Regions from separate parts of the Homo sapiens genome. Here region 2 is linked to region 1. The links come from fine-mapping of genetic effects on gene expression. A gene starts in region 1. The other region holds a variant in brackets. All regions are shown on one strand. Distances are between the middles of the regions. Region 1 holds the start of FUCA2 (alpha-L-fucosidase 2). Region 2 overlaps PEX3 (peroxisomal biogenesis factor 3).

Evidence for each region. PIP is the estimated chance that this variant, and not a neighbour inherited with it, causes the effect.
Region 2: its variant is the best candidate, but not a certain one, in a credible set for the expression of FUCA2 in whole blood (INTERVAL, PIP 0.69).

What each region holds. Positions count from the first base shown.
Region 1 is chr6:143,509,304-143,513,702 of GRCh38, reverse strand. It overlaps FUCA2 (alpha-L-fucosidase 2), which reads left to right and starts at 1,983. Exons shown (of 7, transcript NM_032020.5): 1 at 1,983-2,292. The coding sequence starts at 2,069. LOC105378035 (a long non-coding RNA gene) reads right to left here and starts at 1,918. Exons shown (of 4, transcript XR_007059796.1): 1 at 927-1,918; 2 at 1-709. RefSeq lists enhancers at 1,023-1,683, 1,705-1,884, 1,995-2,124, 1,684-2,346 and a silencer at 2,547-2,750.
Region 2 is chr6:143,459,964-143,464,362 of GRCh38, reverse strand. It overlaps PEX3 (peroxisomal biogenesis factor 3), which reads right to left. Exons shown (of 12, transcript NM_003630.3): 3 at 1,366-1,447. Among named protein-coding and RNA genes, the nearest start is that of PEX3, 11 kb to the right of the region's middle. The variant C/T (reference allele first, on the strand shown) is at 2,367.

The DNA.
Region 1 (4,399 bases):
TCGTTGAGCCCTTTCCTCTAGAACACCCTCACTGTAAAAAAACAAAACAAAATTGGGGACTCTTACGGTGGAGCTGTGGCCCCGGGGGGCCATCTGGCATGTCATGGAGAGGAAAAATGCCCCTACACCTGCAGTGACAGCGCCCTCTGCTGCTCCCATCTCTCTGCAGAGATGGGTTGGGATAATGCAGGCAACAGCCACTTAGTGTCAAGTTCTTCACTCAATAATTAGAACCCCAGTTCACTGGAGAGCTTCAACAAACATTTTGAGTGCTGCTTTTCTGCTGTAATTGTAGGCACTACAGAAAAGAAGGTCATTATGAATGCCCTCAAAAAGCTCACAGTCTGATGGGAAATCAGACCTGTACCACCTAGCTACTAGAGGATGCGTGAAATCCTATGTGTGCTTGGAAGGAGGTGTTATGAAGCAGATCAGGGAAAGTACAACATTCTGGGAGGGAAGGGTGGTGGCAGAAAGCTTCACAAAAGAAGCAGCATTTGAATTGGCTCATTGAAGGGTAATGATTTCATGGGGGCAGAAGCAGTTGAGGATTCTGGCTTTACTTTGAAAACACTTACGAGGTGGAGGAGAGGCTGGGCTTGGTGGCTCATGCCTGTAATTCTAGCACTTTGGGAGGCCAAGGCGGGCAGATCACCTGAGGTCAAGAGTTTGAGACCAGCTTGTCCAACATGGTGAAACCCTGTCTCTACTAAAAAAGAAAAGAAAAATACAAAAATTAGTCTGGCACAGTGGCATGTGCCTGTAGTCCCAGCTACTCTGGAGGCTGAGGCAGGAGAATCCTTGAACCCGGGAGGCAGAGGCTGCAGTGAGCCTAGATCATGTTACTGCACTCAAGCCTGGGCGAGAGAGCGAGACTCTGTCTCAAAAACAAACAAACAAACAAACAAACAAACAAACAAACAAACCAAACAAGAGGTGGAGGTGATAAGCTTCCCAAATATCCTTTTGATTAATCTTTCCAAGTTGCTGGCCTTTTTTCCCAAGCTTGCAGGTTTCTTAAACATTCATTCCACTGGTTTCACCTGTCTCAGATCATCTCCTTGTTCAATGCAGTGGTTCTCAGGAAAGTTTGGACCACCAATCAGAAACATCACAATTTTGTTTTCTTTCTTTTTTTTTTTTTTTTTGAGATGGAGTCTCACTCTGTAGCCCAGGCTGGAGTGCAGTGGCACCGTCTCTGCTCACTGTAACTGCCTCCCGGGTTCAAGCGATTCTCCTGCCTCAGCCTCCCGAGTAACTGGGACTACAGGCGTCCGCCACCACGTCCCGCTAATTTTTTGTATTTTTAGTAGGGACGGGGTTTCACCGTGTTAGTCAGGATGGTCTCGATCTTCTGACCTTGTGATCCGCCCGCCTCGGCCTCCCAAAGTGTTGGGATTACAGGAGTGAGCCACCGCGCCCGGCCCAACATCAGAACATCCTAGAAGTAGGAACTGGGTAGAAACGCAAATTCTTGGGCCCCAACCTAACTGCTGAATCTGAAGCTCTTGGAATTTCATCTGATACAAATTCAAGGTTGACAACCACGGTTCTAACATGCAGGATCTTGGGAGCTGATACAGAGGCCGAGAAGGATCTAGGTTGCTTTCCATGTTCCATCATGGCGAGACCCGGCTGAAGTTCCTGCCTTGACCTTCTCGTGCACGCTTCGGACGTGTGGAGCAGCCACCAGGGTGGGCTGGGGGCATTGTCTTCTTGGGCAGTTTCTTGGTCAGGGTCGTGTCTGCTTGAGGGCAGAGGCGCTGGCCACAAGGCCCTGACTCAGACTCATATTTTCCCCTCAAGAGGACAGAGCCTTAGCAAAGCCGTCCCAGCTGGCTTTGGGGTAATGCTGGCCTTAGTTATGCTGAGCGATGCAGCCCTCCTGAGGTCATTCGGAACGCCCGGGAGAGTGGCCACTCCCGCCCCAGAGGGGGAAGGGTGGCCGGTTTCCAAGTCCGACTTGGTCAGGTGACCGCGGCGCGGCATACTCAGCGGCAGAGACGGAAGAACAGCGCTCCCGAGGCCGCGGGAGCCTGCAGAGAGGACAGCCGGCCTGCGCCGGGACATGCGGCCCCAGGAGCTCCCCAGGCTCGCGTTCCCGTTGCTGCTGTTGCTGTTGCTGCTGCTGCCGCCGCCGCCGTGCCCTGCCCACAGCGCCACGCGCTTCGACCCCACCTGGGAGTCCCTGGACGCCCGCCAGCTGCCCGCGTGGTTTGACCAGGCCAAGTTCGGCATCTTCATCCACTGGGGAGTGTTTTCCGTGCCCAGCTTCGGTAGCGAGTGGTTCTGGTGAGTGCGCTCCCTTTTGTCTCGTCTGCCGCGCTTTTGTCCCCACCCGCAGCCTCCAGCCACCACCCAGCGGGCCTGGTTCGCCGCCTGGTGCTGCCTGCACCCTCGTCGGTTTCACCTCCCACTGCGTTACCCGCGTTTCGCACTTCCGGGTGTCGAATATGTGGTTTCCTGCCTAAGTGCTTCTGCTGGATGAACAGGGAATTTTTCTTCCGTGTGACTGTAAGAGTTTTCAGATACTCCTGACTCCTCAGCTTCTTCATAGTTGCGCATATTAAGCTGTAGTTATGACACTACAACATCGAGCTACTACAGACATTCATCAGTTTGTGCAGGGGCATCACACGAGCGGTGACTCAGGCACAATGGCCTATGGTTGCTCTGCTGCTACCTGCCAATTTACAGTCGTTCTGCCATGAAGTTATGGTTAAAACATAGTCATGAGTATGTGAAACGACTGTTCATTGAACACCATTGGCTACTTAATGTTAACATGTTACCCATGTGTGGCTCTAGGAACTTTTTAAAGAGGTTCTAGAATGGTACTCTTAACACAACCCAGTTATCATACTGCCGTATGAAAGGTGCTACACAAAAATCTGTGCGTTAGATTTTACCTTGAGATCTATGTGAAAATGTGCATGTAATTTCTTAAACTGTTGCACATGTCTTTTCTGACTAAATGCTACAAGTATTAAGTCCTTCAAAACAGAAATATTTTGTGTGCATATATAGAAACATACACATAATATATTCTTTTTTTTTTTTTTTTGAGACATAGTCTCATTCTGTCACCCAGGCTGGAGTGCAGTGGCACCATCTCGGCTCACTGCAACCTTCGCCGCCCGGGTTCAAACGATTCTCGCGCCTTAGCCTCCTGAGTAGCTGGGACTACAGGCGCACGCCACCATGCCTGGCCAATTTTTTTGTATTTTTTAGTAGAAACGGGGTTTTGCCATGTTAGCCAGGCTGGTCTTGAACTCCTGACCTCAGGTGATCCGCGGTGGCTCATACCTGTAATTCCAGGACTTTGGGACACATAATATATTCTTAAGTAAAAGAACGGAATCATTAAACAGTATTTATTTGAATCAACTATATACTACATAAATAGTATACATCCAAATTAACATACTATATTTAGTAGACACAATACAGAGTATGAACTATATATTATATTAACATTACATAGTATACATGGTACCATGCTCTACTCTAGGGGTAGAAAAATTACACCTCCATTCTGTTAGGGTCTCTGCTGGGTCCAAGAATTAAATTGACATTGTGTGACTAAATTATGTGGGGAGACTTAAATAATAAATTTTAGCAAGTTCTGTACAGTATTCTACTTCTTGTCTTTGAAGCTTAGGATGTTGCCTTTCCTTCTAGTACAGAGTGCCTTTCATACTGGAATTTCATCTTCTCTCCTAAGAAACAGCACAAAGGGCAAAGTGCTCTTCATGCACCTGCTATTTTTCGAGTTTCTTTACCTTTAAAAATGTGCCAAAATAGCATATTTTAACCCTTTCATGACAAAGAAATTGACTACCTGCAACCAGTAACCTTTCTTATTGGTAGGTCAATTGATGTAAAAAATAAAACTGGATAAGCTATGGAGAATTATTCATATTTTAAATAATTCACCTTCTAAAACAGAGACTCTTTATTCTTATGCCAAAACATAGCTACTTCAAAAAGATGTTACAAATCTTTATTTGCATGTTTTGGGCTGTAAGGAATCTTGAGCTTGTTTTGGAAATATTTTAGATTAGTGTGGTACATAATTAACAACTTTCTTCCCCCTAAATTGTATCTTATATTATCATTTTGTTCAACCATGAAGATTAGGTAAAGATATATTGGTGCCAAAGAGGATTTGACATTTTTGACTGAGACTAGTACTATGCCAAAATAAAACAGCTAGTTTTGAGTCATTTTATTCTTTGCTATGAATAACTTCATTTTCTACAGATAAACCCATGGTTATTTTGACCTAGAATAATAAAGATACTTCTCATACTAAACAAAATAGAGAACAGATTCCTGATGATCTGAAAATGCATTAACCCTGTGGAAGATTCTTTAATTACCTGTGATTTCCCTTTGT
Region 2 (4,399 bases), 49 kb after region 1:
TCCCCTAAAGCACATGGAACATAGGGCCTTGCAGGAAACAGATTCACCAAGAAGGAAGAATGCCACCACGATTATTTTATCTGTATTATGTTGCTTGTATAAAAATGCTATTCACTTATTTAACTTGTCTTGCCTTCTCATCATGACAAAAAGGAAATTAAAATCTACTTCTTTTCAATTCCTACCTATGTACACACAAATGGTAATTATTTATTTGATCAAAAGCAATCTGCTTATATGTTTCTTCTTCATAAAACTGTATGAACTAATTTATAAGCTAAACCTTATATCTGTAAGAAGGAAGGAAGGTCTGTCTACCTCTAAGAATGAAGAAATTTAAAATGGAAAACCCCCATCACTAGCATTCTGTTTTAATCAGATAAAAGAAATCTCAAGTACACAAATCCACTGTTATTTTGGGAAGTATTCTCTGAATATAGTAAGTGTTTTTAAAAAAATTCCCCACTTGTTATGTAGCCTGTCTGAGCACTCAATTCCTACTGCAAAATGAATAATAGTAACCGCCTCACAGGGATATTGTGTAAATTAAGTGGGAGCATATATGGAAGGTACCTAGCACCAGGGCTAGCACAGTGAGACAGTTTAGAAATAGAACTACTTTTCCCCTGGCTATTTGAAGGGTGATTAAAGGCAAGTGATTATTTTAGGAAGGCCACAATGATTAACATTTATTTAGTGAAACCATTTCCCTGCCCACCCTCCCATCATTGTCATCAAAATAAGAAGCCATTTCCTGCTGGAAGTCTTCTCAAACTAATACAGTATCATACCAAATTACAATACCCCAACACATGCTACATGCAATATACAAGGTTACATATGTGAAAGTGCTTTTGGAAACAGCAAACTGCCATGGCAATGTAAATTATTAGTATTGCATGCTCATGTTATGTTTGTATTTCATTTTGTTAGTAATTTAAGATATAAGTCCTGTATATCTTATTTATTTAAAACGTATGTTCACATGCTGTATTACACCGTAAGCTCTTTCAGAAAGAAGCACAATATTTAACGTAACTTTGTTAGCTTCACAGCATCTGGTTCAGGAACACATTTCACAAGCACTGCATAATTAAATTTGTGAACAATTTCAAAGTGCTATAAGGTCTATTTATATGAAAAACAATACATACAAATATCATTGCCTTGAATGCTTTATGCAAAAAAGTAGAGCATAGACAAAATTAAATGTAGGTTAAATGATATAGTTAGTATTTTTCTTACTGAGCCTATATAAACTTTCATTAGATAGAAAAATAACAAAGATTTTTGAAAAGTCTATCAGTTCATTCTATAAACTTTAAGTGTAGTGCTTAAACAGAAAATGCTGTAACTTGCATTTACCTGTTTTTTAGCAGAGCTGTGAGGCTCTCGGAATTCAGTTGCTGCATTAAGGCCTCTCTCAGTGTTGGAAGCATGGACAGCACTGTAATACAAACAAAAAAAATAAAAAAGGTCACAAGTGATATGACTGCCCTCACTAAGAAATGCGCATTGTTTTAGGCTATATGATAGGGCTAGCAACTAGCAAGAGTCAGAAGGGAAAGTCAGGGCTAGACGATTCAAATTATTATTATTATTATAAAACGATTATATCCTAACAAATCATTTATCTGCTTATGTAATTTAACAAAATTATATAAACATTATGATCACAGCAACACAAGTACACACAGAAGAAACAATAGAAAGAATTATTCTCAGATTTTAACAGTGGTGGTCTTTGAGCTATGGATTATGAACAATTCCTTTTTTTTCTTTTCCATACTCTCCAAATTTTTTACAAAAGTGTTTACTTCTGATTTAATGACAATGATCAAAAGCATTTTTATATTCAGCTATACTTTTTCCTTCATTTTTCATTCTAATTTTTAAAAAGTTTATTAAATACTACAAAGTAATAAACATTTATTATAACCTAGACAAAAGTGCACTGGGTTAGGAACTAAGAGTTGCTGAGTTTTAGTTTTGTCAGTGGGTATTATTTGTTACTGTTTATTGTACATGTTTACTGTTTGTAATACTACAAAGCAATAAACATTTATTATAACATAAATAAAAGTGCACTGGGTTAGAAACTAAAAGTTGCTGAGTTTTAGTTTTAGTTTTGTCAGTGGCTGTTGTTTGTTATTGTTTCTTACTCCCAGGAATAATGTGAAGATGAAATGAGACTAGCAATCTATGGGAAAAAAACTTCATGTGATTTTTAGGAGTTTATTTATGGCTCTACATGTGGAATAAGAAATGCTGGAGAATAAGAATCTGTCATGGGATTAGAGAAAAAAAGAAATGGAGGAATACACATATAAAAATGTAAAATGAGTCTCTAAACCCTAAAAAAGTAA[C/T]GATAACAAAATGAAAAAATATGAAGACCACCACATTCCTTTTCTTTTTGAGACAGAATCTCACACTGTCACCCAGGCTGGAGTGCAGTGGTGCAATCACGGCTCACTGCAGCCTTGACCTCCTGGGCTCAAGCGATCCTCCTGCCTCAGATTCCCGAGTAGTTAGGACTAGAGGCGTGGGCCTCCATGACCAGCTAATGTTTTAAATTTTTTGTACAGATGAGGTCTCACTATGTTGCTCAAGCTTGTCTTGAACTCCTGGGCTCTAGCAATCCTCCCACCTTTGCCTCCCAAAGTGCTGGGATTACAGGTGTGAGCCACCACACCTGGCTATGAACACCACATTCTAAAAGGGAAAACTTCTTGGGTAAGAAAACTACTTATATTTACCCCAAAGCACTCTTTTTTTTTTTTTCTAGTATATCAATTACATCTTATCCAAAGGAATAGAAATTTGATATTATTTGTAACACCATTATCATTGCTCATGTTATGAATTGTACAAAAAATGCAGAATGTGCAGAAAGCTAATTTGGAAAGTTTCACTGAACCTATATTTTGGCTCTTAGAGATTAAATATTTTACTTTTAATTGCCTATAGTCAGCTATTTGTTCATCTTAGGGTTGCATCATGGAAACGTGTGACCCCTATCTTTTGCTGGAGGAGCATACATAATTGACAACCCCATCTGCCACTGCTCTGGATCCATCACCATGTTTGCACTGCTCCCAGCCAATGACACTGCTTGTATGGGCACAGTAAAGCAGGCCCATTTCTGCAGGTCTCCTCTACCAGAAACTTTGGCTTGCAGACTCTTCATGGTCTCCCAATGCTTTCTTAGAACTGTGCTGTAGTCTGAGACTCTTCTTGCCTAATCTTTCTTCCTTCCTTGTCTTTTTCCCTTCACAAATGTCAGACCTGCACTGTGGCCTAAATGCTTCGCTTGCCTTCTTCTGCCTCCCTTCCCCTTTATCCTTTACAGGCATTTCTACTAGTAGATCTCTTGTACATCTAATCCCATCCTAGCATCTGCTTCCCAGGGGACCCAAACTGACACAAGGGTCCATGTCAAACTGCGATGTATTTTAAGACCCCAGCAGCTACATTTTACTTTTTTTTTTTTTTTTTTTTGAGACAGAGTTTCACTCTTGTTGCCCAGGCTGGAGTGCAATGGTGTGATGTCAGCTCACCGCAACCTCCACCTAACAGGTTCAAGTGATTCTCCTGCCTCAGCCTCCCAAGTAGTTGGGATTACAGGCATGCAACACCACGCCCGGCTAATTTTGTATTTTTAGTGGAGATGGGGTTTCTCCACGTTGGTCAGGCTGGTCTCAAATTCCTAACCTCAGGTGATCCACCAGCCTCGGCCTCCCAAAGTGCTGGGATTACAGGCGTGAGCCACCATGCCTGGCCCATTTTATTATTTTTTGAAAATTCAAATAATAAGCAGAAATGGACCATTCCCTAAAAATTCATTAAAATGTCCTAGGCAGTGGCAATATATTGAATGCTAAATGTAAATTTAAAAAGTTATCATTTACCAAGTATTTATCATACATCAAGCACTGTATAGGCATTATCTCATCACGGCCTCACAAAACATTTATGAAGTGGCTTTTATAATGTTCATTTTACTCTCAGAATTGTCATTATGTATAGTATTTATGATTACTATTCGCTTTGCAGAATGAAGGTATTTTTCTGAGTATTACTACTTCAAATATTAAAAATCATACTCCAATTGTAATTTTGGATGTGCCTCTTACCCTTCTTAATCTCAGCCTCAAGTAAAATGAGGTAAGTAAACTAATAATAAAGGCCTTTAACTCTAAAAAATTTCTAATTTTAAAATTAAATAAGGAGAATGTACCTTTATAAATTGTTTCTAAATTAATTGTTCTTGAAAGAATGTTAGAGAAATGAGTAAGCTTTAAACAATAGAAAAGAAAAACAGGCTTTGCATGGATTTGAGAACTAATTCTTCAGTTATGCCAGTTAGGACACACTGTTCTCTTCAAATATGGGCAGGTTG